4 linked regions of the Homo sapiens genome follow. The protein of the gene in region 1 purifies or fractionates together with the protein of each later gene. This does not show direct contact. Each region holds a gene or a part of one and is shown in the gene's direction. Other genes may lie near its edges. The genes, in order: RPL26L1, CTCF, TRA2A and LARP7.

Evidence for each region.
Region 2: the proteins of RPL26L1 (region 1) and CTCF purify together in Homo sapiens (affinity purification with mass spectrometry; 3 studies listed by BioGRID and IntAct, with this or other methods). This does not show direct contact.
Region 3: the proteins of RPL26L1 (region 1) and TRA2A purify together in Homo sapiens (affinity purification with mass spectrometry; 3 studies listed by BioGRID and IntAct, with this or other methods). This does not show direct contact.
Region 4: the proteins of RPL26L1 (region 1) and LARP7 purify together in Homo sapiens (affinity purification with mass spectrometry; 3 studies listed by BioGRID). This does not show direct contact.

Annotation. Positions count from the first base shown.
Region 1 is NC_000005.10:172,954,481-172,962,454, forward strand, and holds the start of RPL26L1 (ribosomal protein uL24-like), read left to right. Parts: upstream 1-4,943; 5' UTR 4,944-4,988; exon of another isoform or gene 4,989-5,147; intron 5,148-5,384; 5' UTR 5,385-5,393; coding exon 5,394-5,561; intron 5,562-7,974.
Region 2 is NC_000016.10:67,635,514-67,639,698, forward strand, and holds the end of CTCF (transcriptional repressor CTCF), read left to right. Parts: intron 1-1,176; coding exon 1,177-1,338; intron 1,339-2,174; coding exon 2,175-2,359; 3' UTR 2,360-3,664; downstream 3,665-4,185.
Region 3 is NC_000007.14:23,507,972-23,515,004, reverse strand, and holds part of TRA2A (transformer-2 protein homolog alpha), read left to right. Parts: intron 1-1,922; coding exon 1,923-2,111; intron 2,112-7,033. UniProt on the Homo sapiens protein: Sequence-specific RNA-binding protein which participates in the control of pre-mRNA splicing.
Region 4 is NC_000004.12:112,633,184-112,640,174, forward strand, and holds the start of LARP7 (la-related protein 7), read left to right. Parts: upstream 1-3,959; 5' UTR 3,960-4,056; intron 4,057-4,318; exon of another isoform or gene 4,319-4,420; intron 4,421-4,460; exon of another isoform or gene 4,461-4,604; intron 4,605-5,434; exon of another isoform or gene 5,435-5,490; intron 5,491-6,991. UniProt on the Homo sapiens protein: RNA-binding protein that specifically binds distinct small nuclear RNA (snRNAs) and regulates their processing and function.

The DNA of each region.
Region 1 (7,974 bases):
GGCGGGGGGGAAGTGGGGGGAGTGGTGGAGGCTGCAGTGAACCAAGATCTAGCCGCTGCACTCCAGCCTGGGTGACAGAGTGAAACTCTGTCTCAAAAAAGAGAGAAAGAGAGAGGGAGGGAGGGAGAGAGGAAGAGGGAAGGTGGGTGTGGAGAGGGAGAGAGACAGAGAACGGAACAACTGAAGATTTTTGGTTGGTTTATGTAAGGAAAATGGAGGGGAACACCGATACAGGTTTCTCTGTAAGGTAGAGCCTTAGCCCAGGGTCATTGTCGAATGTGTTTTACGTTGGCATACAACATTTAAGGGATGGATGCCATTTTTATTATTTCTCCTTTCAATGAACTTTTCCAATTGTCTAACCAGATGTGGATTACAGTGGTTTCATATAAGAGGATTTCTAAATCAGGATTACAGAGCAAAACCCTCCAGGGGTGCGTGACAGGTTGGGAGCTGTGGTGGGTCCAGGCAGAAATGGCTTCCCTGGGAAGTTGCGGAAGAGGCGTCTCTGGAGACGTGCTTCGTGAGGAGAGAAGCTGAAGTGTTGCAAACAACACTGGTTGGGGTGGGTGAAACCTGGGAAGAGGGGGTGAAACCTGGGAAGAAATGGGGTGTGGCACTAGAGTTCATAAATAGTAGCTGTGGTTAGTTTTTTTTTTTTTTTTTTTTTTTTGAGACGGAGTCATTGCCCAGGCTGGAGTGCAATGGCGCGATATCGGCTCACTGCAACATCTACCTCCCAGATTCAAGCAGTTCTCCTGTTTCAGCCTCCTGAGTAGCTGAGATTACAGGCGCCCACCACCATGCCCAGCTAATTTTTGTATTTTTAGGAGAAACAGGGTTTCACCATATTGGTCAGGCTGGTCTCGAACTCCTGACCTCAGGTGATCCACCTGCCTCAGCCTCCCAAAGTGCTGGGATTACAGGCGTGAGCCACTGCGCCCAGCCTGTGGTTAGTTTTTATTACTATATGTTACAAATAATTTTTAAATTCTTGCCGGAAACAATGTGGGAGGCCACTGGAGGTCTCAATCCCTTCTTAAGAAACTGGTCCTTTATTCCAGAAGGTTCATTAGCTGCTGCGGCAGTTAGATGCAGTGGTCCAGGAACGTGAGTGGGGATGTGTGTGGACAAGAATACTCACTGGAGACCCTTTTTTCTTGCCCTAGCAGTTGTTTCCTGTCAGTTATGGAGTGATGAGGTCACGCACTTCATTCTGGCCAGTCATTAATATGATTTGGCATTCTCTGCATGCCAGGCAAGAGTGACTGCTCTTCAGGCCAGATCTTCCTTCGAGATGGATGTTATCTCCTTTTTAGGAAGGAGGAAACAGAGAGACCTCGTAACTTGGCATGGCCACACAGTGAGTCACACAGTTAGTAAAGATGGAATTCATACCCAGGTCTGCCTGACTCTGGGATTACGAAGAATTACATGGTTCCACCTCAGTCCCAAGGTCATCTTTGCTGTGCCAAAAGGGAAAACTGGAAATAGGGGTGGTCAGAGCAGGAGGTGCTTTTTTTGGTTTTGTTTTTCCTTTAAAACAACCTGCAGAGAAAATCTAAATTAAACATTCGCAGGGACAGCGTTCTTACAATTTTTTAAATCTTCAAAATGTAATTTTAATTACACAAATAACACAGGCTCATAAGCCCACTGGAGGAAAATTATCAAATACTAAAAAAAGTAAAAGGGGAAAAACGAAAGTCACCCGTAATCCCACTAATCAGAGATGATCATTTAATGATAACATTTTAGTGATGCCTTTTGATAAGCAAAATGGGATCATACTGTTCATATTATTGTATAGCTTAGCCCTCACTTAACAGACATCTTCCTAGATTAATAAATACGGATCGCATTATTATCTTTATGGGCTGCAAGATAAATAATAACCATATTGAGCATCTAATGGTAGATTATGTCCATCCTTTGTTCCCATCTCACTCAGAGCCTCAGTTTTCTCACCTGTAAAAGGGACAATTCATACTGTTATTTAACGGACTGAAATGAGGTAATGCTTGTAAACCTGTTAGCACAATGCCTGACAGTAAATGCTCAGCCCATTAAGAAGAGCCATTATTATCCATCTAATAAATAAATAAATTCCAACATTTATTAAGTTCTTCCTCTGTGCCAGGTATTGTGCTAAGGGTTCATTTAATCCTGACACCAGGCCGGGTGTGGTGGCTCACATCTGTAATCCCAGCACTTTGGGAGGCTGAGGCAGGTGGATTGCTTGAGGTCATGAGTTCAAGACCAGCCTAACCAACATGGTGAAACCCTGTCTCTACTAAAAATACAAAAATTAGCCAGGCGTGGTGGCATACGCCTGTAGTCCCAGCTACTCAGGAGGCTGAGGCAGGAGAATCACTTGAACCCGGGAGGTGGAGGTTGCAGTGAGCCAAAACTGCACCACTGCACTCCAGCCTGGGCGACAGAGCGAGACTCTATCTCGAAAAAAAAAAAAAATCCTGACACCAAACCAATGAGGTAAGTACTATCATTATTCCCATTTTTCAGATGGGAATAAACTGAGTGACCAAGAGGCTGAATATCTTCTCCAAAGCCAAAGAACCAGGCAGTGGCAGAGATCCAAACCCAAGCGATTTGGGTGCCAGGGCTCAAGCACTTCCCCATGCAGCCACTGCCTCGAGAAATAAAAAGACTCACCAGACACTTCCTCTGTGCTAGGTGCTTTGAGTTCCTGCGCATGTTTCCAGGGGTGGGCATGAGACAAGACAGCCAGTCTCACTACATTGTTAGAATGACAGCCTCCAGCTCTTGTCATCCAGGATATCATTGTGCCTGTTTTAATTTTACTGAACCACACAGCATGTTAAAAACAAAACAAAACAAAGCAAAAAGCCTTCCCTGCTCTGCTTGATCATGGATACTCCTTGATGATCTTGGGTTCTCAAGATCTGTCTTTACATGGCTTTCCTTCACCAGTGAGGCTCTGAACTTCTTGGGAGCACTCCTCCCCAGATCTCTTTAATCAAGACCTGTACCTGGCTCCATGTAGGTACCAAATAAATTGATGAGCAAATGAATGAATGTATGAGTAAATAAGTGGGTGAATGACAATAAATGGATATGTGATAGAGAAATGAGTGAATAAACAGAACCAGTGAGTGAGTGAGTGAATGAATGAGTGAATGAATGAATGAACTCCTTGGGGCAGGGCATGGGTTTGACTAACACCTAAGGACTATTCTAAGAAGAACCTCTGACCTTTACTGTGTGTGCGCCGTTATGCCAGCGTCTGCTCCTGGGTTGCCGATAGGTAATGACTTCCTTTCTTAGGACTGCCCCCCAACCTCCTTATTCTTGGAGCCTGGGCACACGCACAGCTGGGTGGCCCTTCAGCTGATACTGCCTTAACTGCTTTAACTCTGCCTGCTGTGCTGTCCAGGCTTCTGCAAATAGCCCAGGTGTGGCCATCCTCCAGAGGCCTCCAACATTAACTGTGAAGGGCCCGGAATAAAACCTAGTATTAGTAGGCCAGGCGCAGTGGCTCACGCCTGTAATCCCAGTACTTTGGGAGGCCGAGGCGGGAGAATCACCTGAGGTCGGGAGTTCAAGACCAGCCTGACCAACATGGAGAAACCCCGTCTCTACTAAAAATACAAAATTAGCCGGGCGTGGTGGCGCATACCTGTAATCCCAGATACTGGGGAGGCTGAGGCAGGAGAATCGCTTGAACTTGGGAGGCGGAGGTTGCGGTGAGCCGAGATGGTGCCACTGCACTGCAGCCCAGGGAACAAGAGCGAAACTCTATCTCAAAAAAAAAAAAAAAAAAAATCTAGTATTAGTAAACGCAGGTGTTTAACAATGTCACCACTACATGTCAGGGAACACTGATAAACTAAGAGAGAGCACGGGACCTGCCTGGGTGTGGCTGCTGTACTTGCAAGACATCTTCCCTCTCTGAGTTTCAGCATGCCGGCATTTGGCACTAAGTTGTCGTTCAACATATATGGAATGAATGAACGAAAGGGAGAGTTGGAGTTAATAACACCTTGCATAGAATAAACCCCGTCGGTTCTTAACCCGAAGAGAGTCGAGACCCAGAGCCCTTTTCCTTCCCTGCCGCCACGGTGCCCACGGAGGGGGCGTGGTTGATCTCCCTCACAGCTCCGTCGGGACCAGAGACCCGGGGACCTTTTACACCCAGGGTCCGCGCAAAGTGTCGGCCTAGCCAGTGGTTGGGTGGCGCCCGGGCCTCCAGGCAGTCTTCCAGGGGTCGGCGAACGAAACGCGGAGCTCGGGAGCGACCCGGCGGGGCCAGGCACGGGCAGAAGGGCCAAGAGGGCCACAGGTGGGCGCGGAGCGGCCGGAGTGGGCGGGGACTGGATGAGAGGGGCGGGGTCTAGGAGAGAGGGGCGGGGCGGCGGCCACAAACCCGCAGGCACGCCGCCGGCCGCCGTTTAGTCCCAGAGATAGAAAAAAGTAGAGGTAGGAGGGCGCGGCGGCTCACGCCTGTAATCCCAGCACTTTGGAAGGCCGAGGCGGGCGGATCACGAGGTCAGGAAATCGAGACCATCCTGGCTAACAGGGTGAAACCCCGTCTCTACTAAAAATACAAAAAATTAGCCGGGCGTGGTGGGGGGCGCCTGTAGTCCCAGCTACTCGGGAGGCTGAGGCAGGAGAATGGCGTGAACCCGGGAGGCGGAGCTTGCAGTGAGCCGAGCTCGCGCCACTGCACTCCAGTCTGGGCGACAGAGCGAGACTCCGTCTCAAAAAAAAAAAAAAGAACACCAGTAAGCCTCTACCGCAGGCCCTACACAAGCAGGCCCTTGTACTCACTGGCATCGCCCTCCCGGGGCCGCCAGGAATGAGGCACTGAGATCCCACCCCAAGCCGCTGGGGGCGCCATTCGACTTCGCTCCTACGGAAATGGGGCTTCGATGTCTTTCTGCGCTTGCGCGGCACGGAAACTCACTTCCGGCCCTGCGCACTCAGGGTCTGAGGCAGCTAGTAGCCGGGTGAGTGGAGGCTGGAGTTTTCTCGGACAGTGAACTCTACCGCCCCGTGAGACCCTGCCCTATGTGTCGCGGGAACACATGTCACCCCACAGCTCTCTTTGAGTGACCTCCCGACCACCCATTCCTGCCTAACCCTAGCATTCCTTCCTCAGCCTCAAGGTCCCAGTGCTACCCTCTCCCCCACGACCCCTTTAGACGGGCATGCGACCTCCACACACGCCTCACTTTATGTGATAGTCAGACTAGTCGCATCTCTCTGTCCTCCCTCAGTTGCCTTTTCAGAGGCTACCTCCCCTGTAGAGCCTTTGTTGGGGGATGAGGAGTGTCTTGGGTCGAGAACAGGCCCCTGTAACCCACTGAGCGCCCCTTCATTCCGTCTCTCTCCGCCCTTTGTAGAGGGTCACCATGAAGTTCAATCCCTTCGTTACCTCGGACCGCAGTAAAAACCGCAAACGTCACTTCAATGCCCCCTCACACGTGCGCAGGAAGATCATGTCATCCCCGCTCTCCAAGGAGCTGCGGCAGAAGTACAATGTCCGCTCCATGCCCATCCGCAAGGACGACGAGGTCCAGGTACGTCTCCCTCCGGCGCTAGTGGCGCTCGGACACCGTTGCCTAAGAACGTCATGCGTGGAGCAGTCACAGACTCACATGCCTCAGGACTCTGGAAAGTAGTGTGACCCTTCAGATGTGTTAGGCCAGAGATAGGGTTCAGAGCCACCAGAGAGTGCCTGCGTTGCTTTAGAGCATTTAATTATTTAATAGTAATAGTAAAATTTAATAAAACAGTATGTCAACCAAGCAAAAACCTGCTTTTTTGTTTGTTTTGTAGAGATAGGGTCTTGCTATGTTGCCCAGGCTGGTCTCTGAACTCCTGGCCTCAAGTGATCCTCCCACCTCAGCCTCCCAAAGCACTGGGATTACAAGTGTGAGCCACCGTGCCCCACCAAAAATACTTTTGATTTAACCTTCTGGCTGCTAGTTTGCCAAGTGTTGTTGCCCAGGGTGGCTTGTTGAACCAGACTGTAGGGGAAGGTGCTGCAGTGAGAGTAGTGTTTTAGTGTATTTGGGTGTAGTGGGATTGATGGACAGAGATTTGTGGGAGCTGGCCATGTGATAGCATTGGATTTGGCAGGAGAACTGGTAAAGATGCAGCGAGTCACTCTTTCATAATTTCTAAAAGACTGGCCCATGTGAGAACGTACAAGCCCTCTGTTCTCTGTGATTGGAGCTTAGAATGCATGAGAGGAGGGAAGGGAGTTGGATATGAGTGAAATAAGCAGGGGCTAGATTCATTCCTCAAAGGAATATTTATGGAGCACTTACCAGAGATTGTTCTAGGACAAGATTGACGAGGCCCTTGTTCTCATGGAGATCACGTTTTAGAGCAGGGTTTCCTAGCCTCAGCTCTATTGATATGTTGGACTGGATAATTGTTGTGGGGGGTGGGGGGTGGGGGCTGTCCTGTGCATTGTAGAATGTTTAGCAGCGTCCCTGGCCTCTCCCCACTAGATGCCAGTGGCACTCCCTCCCTTCACAGTTGTGACAAGCAAAAATATTTCCAGATATTGCCAAATGCTCCCTGGGGGGCAAAATCAACTCTTCCCTCACTCAGTTAAGAGCTATTGTCTTAGAGAATGAAATGACATAAGGTGATGAGGCTTGGTGTATCATCTGAGACACTGGGACTCTTTGAAGGTTTGGGGATATGTTAAGGAGGAAAAAATGTGGAGTTAAGCCGGAAGTGTGACAGGAAGAGTGGAAAGAGTAGTTCAGAGGTATGATCAGCAGTTTCAACCCCCTCTCTCCTGGATCCTTCCCATCAGACATGTTCTAGAATGGGGGAATTGCAAATACTTATAGGGGATAGGTAGGGATAGAAAATGGCAAACTGGAAAGCTCAAGCCTCACATATAAGATATAATCATCTACCTTTAGCCCATTGATGCCTGGGGGAAATGCAGGCCCATTGTTAGATTCTTGGATTTTCAAAGAGAGCTGGAAAATTTGGATTCACTTCCCTAGCCCACATTTCCTTCCAGCTACTACACTTTGTTCTCTATTCATAACCAACCTCCTCAAGAGAGCTGTCTACACTTCCTCATCTCCCATTCACTCTTGGATTCTCTTCAGTCTATTCCCTGTCCCCACTACATTATAGAACCTACTTTGACGTAGATCACTAATAATCCCTTCGTGACTGAATCCAGTGGACACATCTAGCATCTCTTTCTGCTCTGTGTTCTCTACGTAGGTAAAGAATAGGTAATAATCCGTTCTTAGAGCTTTAAATGTCTGCTGTGTGCTAACAACTCCCTCTTTTATATCCCAGTCCAGACCACTTTAGACAACCTGTATATCTGACTACCTATAACACAGACCTATAGATCTGACTACCTACTGAACATCTCTATTTAGGTAGCCCATTGACATTTCAAGCTTCTTAAGAGTACTCTTGATCCTAACACTCTCACTGCCTCCAGAATCCAACTCTACTCCCATCTTCCACATCTCCAGTAAGTGCCATTTATATCTCCCCAGCTGCATATGCCCCTAAACCTTTGTTATCTTTAACAACGCTCCTTAACCCCCTCTTGTAATCTACCATCAAGGCTTGTTGATTCTACCTCCAAAGTAAGTCTTGAACCTATTTCCTGTCCAGTTCAAGGCAGCATTGCAGTTCCCTCTTTTACCTTTGTCCATTTTCCACAGAGTGGTATTATTTGCAAATCAGGTCCTATTTAAAACCTTTGGCAGGCTGGGCATGATGGCTCACGCCTGTAATCCTAGCAGTTTGGGAGGCCCAGGCGGGTGGATCCCCTGAGCTCAGGAGTTTGAGACCAGCCTGGGAAACATGGTGAAACTCCATCTCTACTAAAAATACAAAAAATTAGCCAGGCGTGGTGGTGCACACCTGTAATCCCAGCTACTCGGGAGGCTGAAGCATGACAATCGCTTGAACCCGGGAGGCGGAGGTTGCAATGAA
Region 2 (4,185 bases), on another chromosome or scaffold:
GAGTTTCACTCTTGTGGCCCAGGCTGGAGTGCAGTGGCGGATCTCAGCTCACCGCAACCTCCGCCTCCCAGGTTCAAGTGATTCTTCTGCCTCAGCCTCCCGAGTAGCTGGGATTACAGGTATGCGCCACCACGCCCAGCTAATTTTATATTTTTAGTAGAGTCAGGGTTTCTCCATGTTGGACAGGCTGGTCTCAAACTCCCAACCTCAGGTGATACACCCACCTCAGCCTCCCAAAGTACTGGGATTACAGGTGTGAGCCACCACGCCCAGCTGCCAGTTTCTTATTTCTTGTAGAGATAAGGTCTCACTATGTTACCCAAGCTGGTCTTGAACTCCTGAACATGAGTGATCCTCCAACCTCAGCCTCCCAACGTGCTGGGATTACAAGTGTGAACCACCGTGCCCAGCCTTAAATTGATTTTTCTTAATAATTGGCTGAGCATGCTGGCTCACACCTGTAATCCCAGCACTTTGGGAGGCCGAAGCAGGCAGATTGCCTGAGGTCAGGAGTTTGAGACCAGCCTGGCCAACATGGCGAAACCCCATCTCTACAAAAAATACAAAGATTATCTGGATTGGCTGGGCACGTTGGCTCATGCCTGTAATCCCAGCACATTGGGAGGCCGAGGCAGGTGGATCACCTGAGGTCAGGAATTCAAGACCAGCCTGACCAATATGGTGAAACCCCATCTCTACTAAAAATACAAAAATCAGCCAGGTGTGGTGGCGTATGCCTGTAGTCACAGCTACTCAGGAGGCTGAGACAGGAGAATTAAACCCAGGTTGCAGAGGTTGCAGTGAGCTGAGATCGTGCCGCTGCATTCCAGCCTGGGCGACAGAGTGAGACTCTGTCTCAAAAAAAAAAAAAGAAGGAAAAAAAAATTACCTGGGCATGGTGGTGCGTGCCTGTAGTCCCGGCCACTCAGGAGGCTGAGCCACGAGAATTGCTTGAATCTGGGAGGCAGAGATTGCAGTGAGCCGAGATCGCGCCACTGCACTCCAGCCTGGGCAATAGAGTGAGACTGTCTCAAAAAAAAAAAAAGAAAGAAAGTGTATATATATATATATATATATTTATAAAACAAGACTTCAAATAATATATAATTGTTTTCTTTCATCTTCCACCACCCTTCTCCTTGCCCCACCACCTGTGCTTCCTGATTTCATGAAAAGAAAATGCTGAACCAGATCTGGACGACAATGAGGATGAGGAGGAGCCTGCCGTAGAAATTGAACCTGAGCCAGAGCCTCAGCCTGTGACCCCAGCCCCACCACCCGCCAAGAAGCGGAGAGGACGACCCCCTGGCAGAACCAACCAGCCCAAACAGAACCAGCGTAAGTTGTTCATCTCTGCTCTGGAGGCTGGCGTCTTCTCCGAGCATGTGGGGGAGCCAGATGGGTCCTTGTTCTTTGGGGATGTGGGAACTAAGCCATGAGAACAAGTTAAGGGCATGTCGAGAACAAACTCTCAGGAAATGGCTTTTTAGGAGTTTTTACTGAGGAACATCTGAGGAAGTCTTTAGAGGCCTGTTACATTTCAAGAAGAAGTCCAGAGTAGAAGGGTACTTGTGTTCTGCAAGATGGGTACTGTTAATGTGGGCGGGTTTTGAAAAACAACCAAAGTCACAGTCAGCTGGCAGAATGGATGCGGTAATGAATATAAAAGAGCCAAATCGTAAAGGTTGGAGAGGGAAAGCAGTTTCTGCACTGAGATTGCCCCTTCTAAGAAACTCAGGGTCAGGCGGTGGCTCATGCCTGTGATCCCAGCACTTTGGGGGGCCAAGGCGGGAGGATCACCTGAGGTCAGTAGTTCCATACCAGCCTGGTCAACATGGTGAAACCCCATCTCTGCTAAAAATACAAAAATTAGCCAGGCGTAGGGGTGGGCACCTGTAGTCCCATCTACTCAGGAGGCTGAGGCAGGAGAATTGCTTTAACCCGGGGGGCAGAGGTTGCAGTGAGCTGAGATCATGCCCGTGCACTCCAGCCTGGTCATAGAGCAAGACTCCGTCTCAAAAAATAAAATAAAAAATAAATTGACTGTCTCTGGACCGCTATCTAATAAGGCTGTCCTGCATTGCTGACATCCCGTTCGCTGTCAGTCTAAAAGACCCTTGTGATTCTTGGGGCTTTAATGGACCATTTGTTCTGTCTGTGCTCTTCTTTGCCAGCAACAGCTATCATTCAGGTTGAAGACCAGAATACAGGTGCAATTGAGAACATTATAGTTGAAGTAAAAAAAGAGCCAGATGCTGAGCCCGCAGAGGGAGAGGAAGAGGAGGCCCAGCCAGCTGCCACAGATGCCCCCAACGGAGACCTCACGCCCGAGATGATCCTCAGCATGATGGACCGGTGATGGCGGAGCCTTGTGCGTCGCCAGGACTTCTCTGGGCTGTGTTTAAACGGCCCGCATCTTAATTTTTCTCCCTTCTTTCTTTTTTTGGCTTTGGGAAAAGCATCATTTTACCAAACATACCGAGAACGAAAACTTCAAGGATGATGTTAGAAAAAAATGTGATTTAACTAGAACTTGCTGTCTGATGTTAGCAAATCATGGAATGTTCTGAGTCCCTGAGGGTTTACTGTGAAGTGCTGAGGACAGTGTTGACAACTAACTCGTTTTCCTAGATGGAAACGGAGACATTGACCCCTCCCTCCATGTGGTAAACCACTCCAGAATGGCCACCAGGCTTCCCAGAGTTCTATGGTCTTCTTCCCAAGAGAGTTTTTAATTGTAAATGCATACTTGGGAAGGACTTAGAGTTTTAAACTGTTTTTTGCTTTTGCTTTTCCCTGACTCCCTTTGCTTGGAGTCAGCTGCACACCAGTAGTATGGCATGCTACGATCAGGTTCTGTCCTGAAAGCTTTGCCTCTTTCTTGGCAAAGTTTCTGGTATGGTCAAGCTTGTAAATAACTTTTTTTACATTTTAATCTTTTCCATTAATTAAGAGGTTGAAAAGAAGTGCAGTGTAAGAAAACCCAGCATTTTAATTACTTGCAAATTAAGTTACCACAGACTCTGTAGTGTGTAAATGTTGACAAGGAATTGGATCACAATCATGTAGCAGAATGGCACCCAGACCACTGCCCACCAGTGACGGACATGCACGTGGCAGATCATGATTTCCAGCCCACGGAGCCAGCATTTGAACCTTGTATAATTAACTTTCAGTTATGATTTCCCATCGACATTTTCTTTGCCCTGTTTGTAGCTGATTGTTGTGTTTTATAAATCTTCTGTTAAGGCAGAAGGGTGATTATGAGTGGTTCACAGCAGCCCTTATAAGCTGGGCCAGAAAATTTCACTAGGTCAGTAATTTAAACCTTGGATCTTCAAAAAATAAAATAATGTGAAGCAAAACCAACTAAAAAGTGATTCTTGCACATGAACTGTCACATGTTTAAAAATGTGTTTTTTAGAGAGCCTCAGTCTTACTGATTTCAAACACTTTTTTCTTCTGTGTATTGCTTTTAAGAGAGCCATCAGTTAGCTATCAGACTCTAGGTTGATGCATTTTGTACTTAGCTGTACTGTGTGATATTTTTCATTATTTTAGGACGCCAACATGAGACCTGTAATAAAATATGTAATGGGGTTGAAAGCTGGGGAGGAGGATCTACTGCTGTACAGCTAATAAATCATAACGGATTAACAAGTGCTCCAAAGACTCCATCTTGCGTGATTCCTGCCTGCTTGAGGGAGGCTGGGGGGCTGCATACATGGTTCCAGGCTGTGCAGGCTGCTGCCTTTCACAGGCAACCTCTGTTCCCTGGGATGGTACTTTCTCTAGCAGATGGGACGATATGATCTTGGCGGGTGACTGGATATTGAGCGCATCCTGCTGTAACTGTTTTTTTGTTTTGTTTTGTTTTGTTTTGTTTTGTTTGAGATGGAGTCTCGCTCTGTTGCCCAGGCTGGAGTGCAGTGGCGCAATCTCAGCTCACTGCAACCTCCACCTCCCAGGTTCACGCCATTCTCCTGCCTCAACCTCCCGAGTAGCTGGGACTACAGGCGCCTGCCACCATGCCTGGCCAATTTTTTGTATTTTTAGTAGAGACTGGGTTTCACTGTGTTAGCCAGGATGGTCTCGATCTCCTGACCTTGTAATCCGCCTGCCTAGGCCTCCCAAAGTGCTGGGATTACAGGCGTGAGCCACCACACCCGGCCCCTGCTGTAACTT
Region 3 (7,033 bases), on another chromosome or scaffold:
GAAGGAGTTTTAGTTTTGGTTTTGGTTTAGTTTTTGCTAACTAGCAGTCTAGGTTTCAACCAGGCAGCCGGGCTCTAAAGTTCTTAGAACATGTTTGCATGCTGTACTATGCTTCTCCCACAGGATACTAACTTAAACTGTGGTGGAGCATGTCATTATTTAATGTTTTGAAATCTGTAAATTTATTTCTAAAATCTGGATTGTGGGAACACTGAAAGAATATCCTCGCTAAAGAATGAAAATGGGCCAGGCATATTGGCTCACGCTTGTAATCCCGACTACTTGGGAGGCTGAGATGGGAGGATTCCCTGAGCCCAAGGAGGCCAAGGCTGCAGTGAGCCATGATCAGGCCAGTAAACTCCAGCTTGGGCAAGAGAGTGAGGCCCTGTCTCAGAAAAAAAAAAGAAAGAAAATGGAGGAGAGGAGGTCTAAATCAACAATTACAGATGAAGTCAGATTAAGTACAAATCTGTAAGGGATGTAAAGCATTTGAATTAACTAGAAAGATGGTATTAAACTGAGGATACTTTTTTTTTATAAGTGAGACGGAGTTTCACTCTTATAAAAAGTAAAGGTTGTTCAAAGAGATTTTCCTCCCCATCTAATTAGAAATAGATAATAATTTCTCTTAGAAGCAAAATTTATTCAAAGAGCTGTGCTAACATTCTTAAATATCTGCTAGGCCGGGTGGGGTGGATCACCTGAGGTTGGGAGTTGGAGACCAGGCTGACCAACATGGAGAAACCCCATCTCTACTTAAAAATACAAAATTAGCTGGGGGTGGTGGTGCATGCCTGTAATCCCGTCTACTTGGGAGGCTGAAGCAGGAGAATGGCTGGACCTCGGGAGGTGGAGGTTGCGGTGAGCCAAGATCGCACCATTGCCCTCCAGCCTGGGCAACAAGAGTGAAACTCCGTCTCAAAAAAAAAAAAAAAAATCTACTAGCCGTAGTAAAAAAATCAATGTACTTTATGTTCTTAGCTCCCACAATTTAGCCTAAGTATTTGCCCTAACATGCTTATACTGGTCCAAACAAGCATTAGGTCATAGCCTGTTCCTCTTCCTTATTTAAAGGTGTTTTTACCTTTCTCAACATTCCACAAATTACTTCCTCCTTCCTTTGTTCTCCTCCGCCTTTGCCTCTTTTAAAAAGTTTGAAGTTACTAGCCAATCAAGACAAATCAGAATGTGAAGTCCCATTCCAGCCAATAAAAAACAGACACAACAGTAAGGTAGACACGTCAGATTATAAATGACCCTGTCTCCTTTGTTCAGTGTACTCTTGTGACAAAACTGCTGACAAGCGTACCCTTTCTACAGAAAATAAAAATGGCCTTACTAAAAAAATGTATGTTCAAGTGCTATTTCTTTACAACACCGAGAAACAAACATTTCTAACACTCTTGTCGCCTAGGCTGGAGTGCAATGGCTCGATCTTGGCTCACTGCAACCTCCACCTTCTGGATTCAAGCGATTCTCCTGCCTCAGCCTCTGGAGTAGCTGGGATTACAGGCGCCGGCCACCATGCCCAGCTAATTTTTGTATTTTTAGTAGAGATGGGGTTTCACCATGTTGGCCAGGCTGGTCTCGAACTCCTAACCTCAGGTGATCCACCCACCTCAGCCTCCCAAAATGCTGGGATTACAAGATTTTCAGGATACATTATGAACATTGCTGGGCTGGAGAGTAAGAACATTTTAATTCAGGCTATAGACAGAAAGCATATCCCAAAGAAGGCCTTGGGTGTACTGTGAATTGTAAAATATGGCTCATCTGCTCTAGTTCTCTTAAAATCTTATCTCCAAATTATTAGAAACAATATATTTATTGTGTATTAGATGAGGTGTTCTAAACAAAGTATTTCTGTGTTTCTTTGATTTTGATTTTAATTTGGAGTTTTAAATAATATTTCCATTCAATAGGCAAATCCAGATCCCAACACTTGCCTTGGAGTGTTTGGCCTCAGTTTGTACACAACAGAGAGGGATCTTCGTGAAGTATTTTCTCGATATGGACCATTGAGTGGTGTCAATGTGGTTTATGATCAGCGAACTGGGCGATCTCGAGGATTTGCTTTTGTGTATTTTGAGAGAATAGATGACTCAAAGGAGGTAAATTTGTCTTTTATATGCCTGATTATAGTACTGAATTAGTGTGAAAAGTTGATTAATAGACTTATTTCTGTAAACATTGCATCCTTTTTTCTTCCTTTTTTTCTTTTTTTTTTTTTTAAAGATAGGATCTTGCGTCCAGGCGCGGTGGCTCATGTCTGTAATCCCAGCACTTTGGGAGGCCGAGGCAGGTGGATCACGAGGTCAGGAGATCGAGACTATCCTGGCTAACACGGTGAAACCCCGTCTCTACTAAAAATACAAACAATTAGCCAGGCGTGGTGGCCGGCGCTTGTAGTCCCAGCTACTCGGGAGTCTGAGGCAGGAGAATGGCGCGAACCCGGGAGGCAGAGCTTACAGTGAGCCGAGATTGCGCCACTGTACTCCAGCCTGGGCGACACAGTGAGACTCCGTCTCAAAAAAAAAAGATAGGATCTTGCTGATTTTGCTCTGTTGCCCAGGCTGGAGTGCAGCCTCGACCTCCTGGGCTCAAGCAGTCCTCCTACCTCAGCCTCCTGAGTAGCAGACACTACAAGTGTGGGCCACCATGCCCAGATAATTTTTTGTTGTAGAGATGAGGTCTCACTATGTTGCCCAGGCTGATCTCGAACTCCTGGCCTCAAGTGATCCTCCCAGAATGCTGGGTTTACAGGCATGAGCCATCATACATGGCCTGTTGTGTCCTTTCTAATTTTGACCTGATTCAAACTCTGCCTCTCAGTGTTAACAATTGGAGTGACTACAGTTTCACTTTTTTTGGTTATGCTCTCTGCTATAGGCATATCCTAATTGAAATCTGGCTGTGTAAAGTGAGCTATATGTGTTTAAATTAATGGAAAAAGTATATGTGTAAGTGTTCTCTTTTGAATAAGCCATAATGATGCTCCAAACAGATGATTACATTAACTTTTAAAAAATAATTCTGATGTGTGGGTTTGATATGTTTAATTTTGTGTCTATAATGAGGAAGGAACTTGTTTTTCTATTCTCTAAATGTTCATTTATCAGTGTGTTCAATAATTGAAAAATAGTACATGGAAAGAATTGATAATTTTTTAGTGCTATTCTTAACTTGCCTAACACAATGAACTAATCAATGTCAATGACTTGAAATAGTGCTATTCTAACATGTTCGGTATTATAAAGGAAGTGGTAGGCTTGCTTTAAGTTTTTGCAGGGAGTCTTGCTGTGTTGCTTAGGCTGGTCTCGGAACAACTCCTGGCCTCAACTGTTCCTCCTGCCTTGGCTTCCCAAGGTGCTAGAATTACTGATGTGAACCACCATACCTGGCCTAGGCTCGCTTACTCTTTACTAAAAGTTGATAGTAATTGATTTAGAAAATTGCATTTTAAAGAATTTGAAGCTCAATACTTTTAGTTTTGTTAGACCTTCTGTCTTTTAAATTAATATATATATATTTGTATATATCTGGAAGTTTTATTAGACCTTAATAATCAGGGTGTTTTTCTTTTCTTTTCTTTTCTTTTTTTTTTTTTTTTTTTTTTTTTTTTTTTTTTTTTTTTGAGATGGAGTCTCGCTCTGTCGCCCAGGCTGGAGTGCAGTGGCGCGATCTCAGCTCACTGCAAGCTCTACCTCCCGGGTTCATGCCATTCTCCTGCCTCAGCCTCCCGAGTAGCTGGGACTACAGACGCCCGCCACCATGTCCAGCTAATTTTTTGTATTTTTAGTAGAGGCAGGGTTTCACTGTGTTAGCCAGGATGATCTCAATCTCCTGACCTCGTGATCCACCCGCCTCAGCCTCCCAAGGTGTTGGAATTACAGGTGTGAGCCACCGCGCCTGGCCAAATAAGGCTATCTTTTAAAAACAGTAAGTTCTTGGCATCTGGTGGGTAGAAGCCAGGAACACTGCTAAATAACCATACAGTACACAAGCTGGCACCCCATAACATAGAATCAGTCTCAAAATGTCAATAGTGCTAAGGTTGAGAAACCCCGGATAACTCTAACAAACTAGTACTTTAGTTTTTAAGTCATTTATGTCACAGGCAGTTTAATGCCTTAATTTGTCAGTCTTATGATTTTTTTTTTTACTGTTACGTATTTGTGATTTATATATTCCTTTTCTCAATTAAGAGATACATGTTATCAATTTAGAAATACTAGGATATCTGAGCTGAAGTAAAAGTTGCAAAATGCAAGCCAGAACAGTGTAATTTTTTTATTATTAATATTTTTTAATGTGAAACGTGTTTATCTCTTGATTCCACCTGTCCCCTTCCACTTCTGGATAAAACTAAAATGGCAGGCCGGGCACAGTGGCTCGCACCTTGTAATCCCAGCACTTCGGGAGGCTGAGGCGGGCAGATCACCTGAGGTCAGGAGTTCAAGACCAGCCTGGCCAACAGGGTGAAACCCCATCTGCTAAAATACAAAAATTAGCCGGGCATTGTGGCAAGCGCCTGTAACCCCAAGCTACTCGGGAGGCTGAGGCAGGAGAATTGCTTGAACCTAGGAGGCGGAGGTTGCAGTGAGCTAAGTTTGTGCCACTTCACTCCAGCCTGGGCAACAGAGTGAGACTCCACTTCATCTCAAAAAGAAAAGAAAAAAAAGCTTAACTGGCAACTTTAAAGACAGGAGCAGTTACTTAGTGGCAGGATTAGAAGTTCCTTTTAGTTCACTAGGTGACAATATGTTACTTAAGGAGCGGGGTGACGAGGCTTGTCAGCTAAATCACAGTTTCTCTTTTCAGTTGCCCAGGCTGAATTCTCAGCTAACACAGGCATGTTGTATGGTTTCTTCTGTATGGCTGAGACTGTCTCCAGTCTTTAGGGACAGGCAATCTGAAGTGATTTGATTTTTTTCTTTTTTTGTTGTTTGTTTGTTGTTTCTTTGTTTGTTTGGAGATGAGGTCTTGCTCTTTGCCCTGTCGCCTAGGCTGGAGTGTGGTGGCACGATCTCAGCTCACTGCAACTTCCGCCTCCCAGGCTCAAGTGATCTTCCCACCTTAGCCTCCCGAGTAGCTGGGACAACAGGTGCGCACCACCATGCCCGGCTAATTTTTGTATTTTTTGGTAGAGACGGGGTTTTGCCCCATTGCCCAGGCTAGCCTCAAACTCTGGACCTCAAGTGATTTGGCCTCCCCAAAGTGCCAGGATTACAGGCATGAGCCACTTCACTTGGCTAAAGTGATTTTTTTTTTTTGAGACGGAGTCTTGCTCTGTTGCCAGGCTGGAGGGCAGTGGCACAATCTCGGCTCACTGCAACCTCTGCCTCCCGGGTTCAAGCAATTCTGCCTCTGCCTCCCGAGTAGCTAGGACTATAGGTGCATGCCACCACACCCAGCTAATTTTTGTATTTTTAGTAGAGATGGGGTTTCACCATGTTGGCCAGGATGGTCTTGATCTCTTGATACCTCATGATCCCCCCATCTTGGCCTCCCAAAGTGCTGGGAGTACAGGTGTGAGCCATCGCGCCCAGCCTAAAGTGATTTTTAAAATCTTTTTAAAATTTGTATTCCTTTTTGACTAACTTCTCCCTGATTCTGAAAATTTCACTGAAGTTTCAAAGTTATTAGTGTGCATATGGTGAAGATAATAATATAAGCTCCTCACCCTGTTTTAGTAAGAAGTACTTAGAGATTTTGTGTGTGTTTTTTTGGGGGGTGCTTAGGATGGGGTGCAGGGAGATCAACTTAGAGAATTTTGATTTTTGGAACTTCAAATGGAAGATGTGTTAAATTTGTTGCAGCTTTGCTTTTGCAGACATTTATGTGATGTAAAGTTCTTTTTAAAAATTGGACCGGGTGTGGTGGCTCATGCCTCTAATCCCAGCACTTTGGCAAGAGGATTTACTTGAGCCCAGGAGTTTGAGACCAGCCTGGGGAAACATAGGGAGACTTGGTCTCTACAAATATATATATGTGTGTGAGAGAATAGGAAAAAAAAATTGTCCCAGAAACAAATAATACTCTCAGAGTTCTTTTCAAAGAGACCAAAGAGACAACTCTTATCTTCAAGAATTAGGCTGTGCAAGGCGGCTCATGCTATTTGGGAGGCTGAGGTGGGAAGGCCACTTGAGGCCACGAGTTAAGAGACCAGCCTGGGCAACAGATCTTGTCTCTACAAAAATAAATGCATGCAGGCCAGGCGTGGTGGCTTACGCCTGTAATCCCAGCACTTTGGGAGGCCAAGGCAGGAGGATCACAAGGTCAAGAGATCGAGACCATCCTGGCCAACATGGTGAAACCCCATCTCTACTAAAAATACAAAAAATTAGCTGGGCATGGTGGCGCATGCCTGTAGTCCCAGCTACTTGGGAGGCTGAGGCAGGAGAATCACTTGAACCTGGGAGGCAGAGGCTGCAGTGAACCGAGGTCACGCCATTGCACTCCAGCCTGTGCAACAAGAGCGAAACTTGGTCTCATAAATAAATAATAAAATGCATTCCATTGAATGGAATACTGTTTAGACCCCTTCTCTACCAAGAATTTTTGTTTTAATTAGCCGAGCATGGTGGCACAAACCTGTGGTCCTAGCTACTTAGGAGACTAAGGCTGGAGGATTGCATAAGCCAAGAAGTTTGAGGCCACAGTGAACTATGATCCACTGCCAGCCTGGGCAATGGAGTGAGACCTCCTTTTTTTTTTTTTTTTTTTTTTAATGACCTTTAGTTTATGGGACACTCTTACGGAGAAATATTTGTGGATACATAAAAATTGTGTAGTTTTTATTAGTTTATTATACTTTTATTAGTTCAGTCTCAATAAAAGGTTGAAAGGCATTACGATAAATTTGTTCTTGTCTGTTTATATCATTTCTTCTTGGCTGCTCACTGAGTCTTAATCAGTGTACTAGACTGCAAACTAAAGAATAAGATTGGGGGCAGGTTATAAAAAGAACATGTATAAAGCTTAGCAAACCCTTTTTAATGTTCTGAAGTCAGTCTTTGTAAGTGAAATCGCT
Region 4 (6,991 bases), on another chromosome or scaffold:
TCTGAAGTTATAAACCAGCTGGGTCCAGAAAATAGGAAATATTCAACTATTTATACCACCTAAAATTAAAAATGACATAAAATTTCAACCCTGATTTTTAAAAAATATCAAATATAATTTTTCTCAATAAACTCCCAACCACAGACATGAATCAAGGAGTTCCAAGATTACCTAACTACCAAGGGAAACAGAGGTGTAATTATCTATCACTGAGGACACAGTAAAAGTGATACCATGCTGTGAAACAAGCATTTTTTCATAAGTAAAGAAAAAACTAAGTAAAATACATAAATTAACTTGTAGTCTGCATTTTTCCAGATGCATAATATGTATCAGAAAACACGAATTTGTCCTCCACATGTTTGGTTCCCTATAGCGCAAATTCAATTTTTAAAGTTTTCTGAATTGCTACGGTTACCACAAGATGGCCCCCTTGTGTTTTAAATTTTTCCTTTCACTTCTTAGCATCAATATACCACAGTATCTAGGACCAATTACATAGTACCTCTACAAGGAAAAATCTTTCCAACACTGTTGCAACAGTTACTGTAGTTGTTATGCTATTGGATAAAACTGTTTTTGTGGGCAAATTTGGAAATCTAAAATCACTGATGGTGATCCCTGAAGAAGTAAACAGAAATGCCAAAGAAACATACTTTCTTTTTTTTCCCCTAAGGTGGTTCTCAAGATGTGACCCCTGGACCAACAGTATCATCTGGGAACTAGTAAGAAATGACCTATTAAGTCAGAAAGTCTGGGGTTGGGGGCCCAGCAGTCTGTGTTTTAAGAAGCCCTCCAAGTGATGCTGATGGACACTCAAGTTTGAGAATACAGATCTAAAAGACCTAGAAGGATTCAATAAAGCTGTAATTGTGATTTCAGTTCCTCTTTTAGACATATAAAATATGCCACTTACATATTATTTATAAGTTACATATATTTATTCAGTACTTACTATTGTGCCAGATATTATGCTAAAGTATTTAAATGGAAACTCTATCCTCCATCTGAAGGAATTTCAGTATGGCGGGGTGATAAACAGTAATTTTAATAAAATAAGGCAGGAATAAGCACAGCAGGGGCACCCAGCTTGGTGTGGATCATCAAACAAGGCTTCTTCAAGGAAGTAAAGTCTAAGCTGTAAGCTGAAATAACCCTTAGTCAAGGGAAGGCCAGTGAAGGTCTTCCCAAACAAGAATTGCAGGCCTGTGATCCCAGCACTTTGGGAGGCCGAGACAGGTGGATCACCTGAGGTCAGGAGTTCGAGACCAGCCTGGCCAACATGGTGAAACCCCTGTCTCTACTAAAAATACAAAAATTAGCCAGGTGTGGTGGTGCGTGCCTATAATCCCAGCTACTTGGGAGGCTGAGGCAGGAGAATCACTTGAACCCAGGAGGCAGAGGCTGCAGTGAGCCGAGATCACGCCACTGCACTCCAGCCTGGGCGACAAGAGCAAAACTGTCTCAAAAAAAAAAAATAAAAGGGCGAGGCGGGGGCGGTGAAGTGCAAGAAAGTGACTGGCATCTTCCCTTGACTAATCAAGGTGATCTGGAGAAAGAATAGGTAAGGGGTATGCAAATGAGATATGCATACTTGCTTCGTGACACAGGTCACAGGACAGAAACCAAACCTACAGAAGGACTGCCTTTCAGAAATATAACTCCTGGCCGGGTGTGGTGACTCACGCCTGTAATCCCAGCACTCTGGGAGGCCATGGCGGGTGGATCATGAGGTCAGGCGCTCGAGACCAGCCTGACCAACATGGTGAAACCCCGTCTCTACTAAAAATACAAAAATTAGCTGGGCATGGTGGCACAGGCCTGTAGTCCCAGCTACTCAGGAGGCTGAGGCAGGAGAATTGCTTGAACCCGGGAGGCGGAGGTTGCAGTGAGCAGAGATCACGCCACTGCACTCCAGCCTGGGCGACAGAGCGAGACTCCATCTCAAAAAAAAAAAAAAAAAAGAAATACAACTTCCACATCCTATCTCCCTCCCCTCCGGCGTACATAAATTGCTGATGCCTAAGAATGCCAAGAAGATAAAAGAGAGATCGAGAAAAACACTCCTGGGCTAGATATGCTGTATACATAGATGAGAATACATGGTACAGACACAGTGCTGGGCATGTGGCAATTATTAATATCAGATCTGTTTAATAGCTACCATTTATTCAGTGCTACCATATGCTAGAAACTGTTAAATGCTTTATTTGGAGGTTTTGTTTCTGTTGGCTTTTTAACTTTTCTTTTTCTTTTACAGAGACAGGGTCTCACTCTGTCACCTAGGCTGGAGTGCAGTGTTGCAATCATAGCTCGCTGTGGCCTCAAACTCCTGGGCTCAAGCAATCCTTCCAGCCTCCCAAAGTGCTATATTATAAACATTATATACATTATATTGTTAATTATATACATTATAATTATTATGTAATTATATAATATATAACTATATTACTGTATTATGTAATATACAATTATATGATTATCGTGTGTAATTATATATATTTATTGATTACATACTATGTATCAGGCAGGAATTGGACGAGATACTTTACATACAGTATTTATCAGTCTCATAATCCTGAAGAATAAGCATTATTACAATTTACAGATTAGGAACCCAGTATTTACTAGTTTAGGATAACTTATATGCTATTTCACAATTGCAAGATAAATTCTCCATTATTTTCCTAAATTGAGATATTACTTCTGGAATGTACAGTTTAAAAAGAACTAAGAAGACTGAAACTCTTAAAGGATGGTTAAATTCGATTATAGGAGAAAACCTAAAAAAAAAAAGCTAACTGGATCTTTTAAAATTTAGAAGAGCTCTAATACTTATTCATTGAAAGTCAACACCCTTTCTTATCTTAGTATTAATCAGAAAAAATTATTTTAGACAACAGCATCATATATATTTAAGTGAGATGCAAAGAGTTTTTTCCAAGTGTTCATCTGTCCACGTCTACCAGACAATTCACCTGTTGACCGACTTCTAATAGGTGAAAGATTAATCTCCAAATAAGTTTTTAAAGACCCCAGATGCTCTGTGATAATTATATACATACATACATACACACAGATATACGTACATACACACATATACATACATATACATTGTGCTACTATATGTACGGACGCAATATATATACATAAAACTCGGTGTTCTCAGTAAAGTATGAGCCATTATTCATTTAAATACTAGATATTTTTCCTTTTTTTTTAAACAAGGAGTATTTTTTGAACCTAAACCTGAACCTCTAAATAGTTCGGATAACAAAGTTTTGGAATCATGAACTCAACATTGTTAACAAACCATCCAGTCCAAATAAACAAAGGAAACCCACATCTCATTTGCCAAGATTCTAAGAACCATAATCCTGTCACCAAATGACAATGGAGACTTGATCCTTTCTCAGTCCTAAATACAAACAGCAAAGCCCTCTTTGGTCCTCATACCTACTCGAAATTGCAAAGCAAGGCCTGGGAAAAACGGTGAAGAGGCACCACTTACTACAAGCAGTCCGAGTAGCTGTGACTGCGACCACCCCAATCCTGGTTCCAAACAGCATCCTTCCCGGTTCTCTTCTTAAGGAGCAGAGTCTTTCGTCCCTTCGCCCCAAATCGCTCAAGTCATTCCTAGGAAATCCCGAGAAACACTTCACCTCACCTGTCAAATTGCACAAAATCCACTTTCGAATTTCTCCCGCGAAACAACGTGACGTCATTAACGCGGGACCTCACCAGATGAGGACCCAAAACTTGGCCCGCCCACCTCCGCCTAAGCCAAAAACCGCCGCTTTCAAATCGCCAATCAAATTCTTCCTTGGCTTCGAGTCTCTCAGCCGGCCGCGCTCTCCGATGCCCAGCCCTCCTGGAACCACCTCGCCTGTGACGTAGGTGGAGCGCGCACTGCCTCCGGGCCCGTCTTTCTCAATTGGGACCGGAAAACGTTGTCGCTCATCCTATGACGCGAAAGTAACCGAGACTATCAGGATCCGGAGACGGAAATGTCCGAAGGCCGCAGTACTTGACCCTGTATTTTGGGAGTCGAACGGAGTAAGTTACAAGCGGCCTATAGGGTCGCACAGCTTGGGCGAAGTCTAATTAACTCTCCGTCCTTTTTCTTGCGGTCCACTCTATCATCTATCGTCCTTCTTACCCCGCCCCCCCGTCCTGCACACCCATCAGTTCCTTGGCCTAGTTATCTATGCGCACGCGCAAAAGTCTTCGGCAGCACTTGTAGTTCCCGTTTTCAGACAGTAAGGGCGCATAGGGGCCCGGCGTGGGGAGGTTTGGGGCGCGCCCGGCCTATGACGGCGTCCTTGCGGAAGTACGGGTGCCGAGAGAAGCAGTAGTCAATAAAGAGAGTGCCGTATTTCGCAGATTGGAGCTGAGCTGTGGCTGCCAGAAGATAGCGAACGTGAGGATTTATATTCTAAAATTATCATCTTCTTTTGCAGGACTCTGCCATCGTCCTCAAAGAGTAAAAAATCCAGTTACGGAAGGGAACTAACACTTGCTAGATATGGTGTGCAGAGTGCGTTTGCAAAGAAACTTAAGAGAAAACAAATGATAGGACACAGGGTGGTGGAAGATCTCAAAGAGTAAGATGCCATTTAACCTGGGCCTTGAAAATTTAATAAGGAAATTTAGACGAGAAGATTCAGACAAAGCAGAACACACAGGCCACTACGTGTTGAGGGACTTGAGTTGTAAGCAGTGACCAGAACAATGATTCTTAACCTGTTGTGGCACACTTCTTTTGAAAACTTAATTATATGGATTAGCTTCTCAGGAAAACGTGCATGTACCTATTAAAACATTTTGCGAGGCTGGGCACGGTGGCTCACGCCTGTAATCCCAGCACTTTGGGAGGCCGACGCGGGAGGATCACTTGAGGTCAGGAGTTCGAGACCAGCCTGGCCAATATGGCAAAATCTCGTCTCTACTAAAAACACAAAAATTAGCGGGGAGTGGTGGTGCACACCTGTAGTCCCAGCTACTCAAGAGGCTTGGTTGGGAGAATCGCTTGAACTCGGGAAGCAGAGATTACAGTGAGCCGGGATCGCGCCACTGCACTGCAGCCTGGGCCACTGAGAGAGGCTGCGTCTCCAAACAAACATTTTTCATATAATTTCCTCAGGAGAAATTACGAAATACTTTTAAATAGCAAACACACACAAATGACTTGGTGTCTTGTCTGACTCACTCTTCCAAGTTATCTATGTCTTTCGTGGTCTTTGAACTATTTTTCAACCCTGTAACTCGCTACAGCAACATGGAAATTAGGTTTGTCCAGTAAAGATGCAATTAATTATTGTCCTGAGCAGTATTTATTAATATTCATTTCAACGTTCCTGATTGCCTGTGTACCTGCTTTTTAAATTCTCCTTTGAACTGGTTTTTAGCACTTAACTGGTTCCCTTATTTACAGTCAAGCACCACATACCGACAGACCGCATGTATGACAGTGGTCCCATAAGATTATAGGTGAGTAATAGGCAATAGTACCTAGGTTTGTGTGAATACATCATAGAATAACTACATACTCAATGATGTACTTACTCACCTGACTGTGCATTTCTCAGAATGTGTCCTTGTCGTTAAGCAACCCATGACTGTGCTTAAATCTTTACCGTGTATTCATTTTATATTTGTACAAGAGTCTTGATTTTACCTTATCTTTAAAATGTATCATTTACAATTTAATGGAGCCCACTAGAATTCTTGTCCAGCCAAAGTTGCATGGACTTCAGATTAAGAATTCCTGAGTCAGAACATAGAGTCCGTGGTGATAAATTGCGGGAAATTCTACCAAAAGGTAGACAATGTGGGATCAAACATACCTGGGACAACTTACTTAGCTAGCTTTGGCCAAGTCACTTAAACCTTTTTGAGTTTTTGTGTTAAGATGGAAGAAACTGCTACCTAGTGGGATTGTGAGGATTTACAAAAGTGTATATAAAGTTACTGGTATTGTTACCCAATAACTTTTATTCTTCATTTAAAGCCAGTTAAATGTTACTTTTTTTTTTTTTTTTTTTGAGACGGAGTCTTGCCCTGCCGCCCAGGTTGGAGTGCAGTGGCACGATCTCGGCTCGCTGCAAGCTCCGCCTCCCGGATTCACACCTTTCTCCTGCCTCAGCCTCCCAAGTAGCTGAGACTACAGGCGCCTGCCACCATGCCCGGCTAATTTTTTTCTTTTCTTTTTTCTTTTTTTGTATTTTTAGTAGAGACGTGGTCTCACCTTGTTAGCCAGGATGGTCTCCATCTCCTGACCTCGTGATCCGCCCGCCTTGGCCTCCCAAAGTGCTGGGATTACAAGCGTGAGCCACCGCGCCTGGCCAAGTGTTACTTTTTTTTTTTAAAACAGTGTTTTCATAAACTGCATATTATGTTACGGGAAGGTGCTAAGGAATTTCTAATGTTGCAAGTTTTGACAGAAGCATCACAAAACCAGGTCTGTGTTTTAGATGGGTTATACATAGGCTCCTGTTGAGAATGGGTGACTTACAGAACAGTTTATAAACTATTGGCATATTCTAGTGACAGTTGTAGCAGTAGTTGTAGAAAACACTGGATGGAGATGAGAGCCATTTCAAAAGTCAAACTGATAGGATTTAACAAGAGATTGGATAGAATAATTGGATAGAATTATTGATAATTGGATAATTATCAATAATTTATAATTATAGATTATCAATTATAGAATTATAATTATCAATTATAGAATAATTGATAATTATAGCCTACGTTTGTGTTTGTTCGTTTTTGAGATGGAGACTGAATCTGTCTCCCAGACTGGAGTGCAGTGGTACGATCTCGAATCACTGCAACCTCTGCCTCCTGGGTTCAAGCGATTCTCCTGCCTCAGCCTCCCGAGTAGCTGGCATTACAGGCATGGGCCACCACACCCAGATAATTTTGTTATTTTTAGTAGAGACTGGGTTTCACTTTGTTGGCCAGGCTGGTCTTGAACTTCTGACCTCAA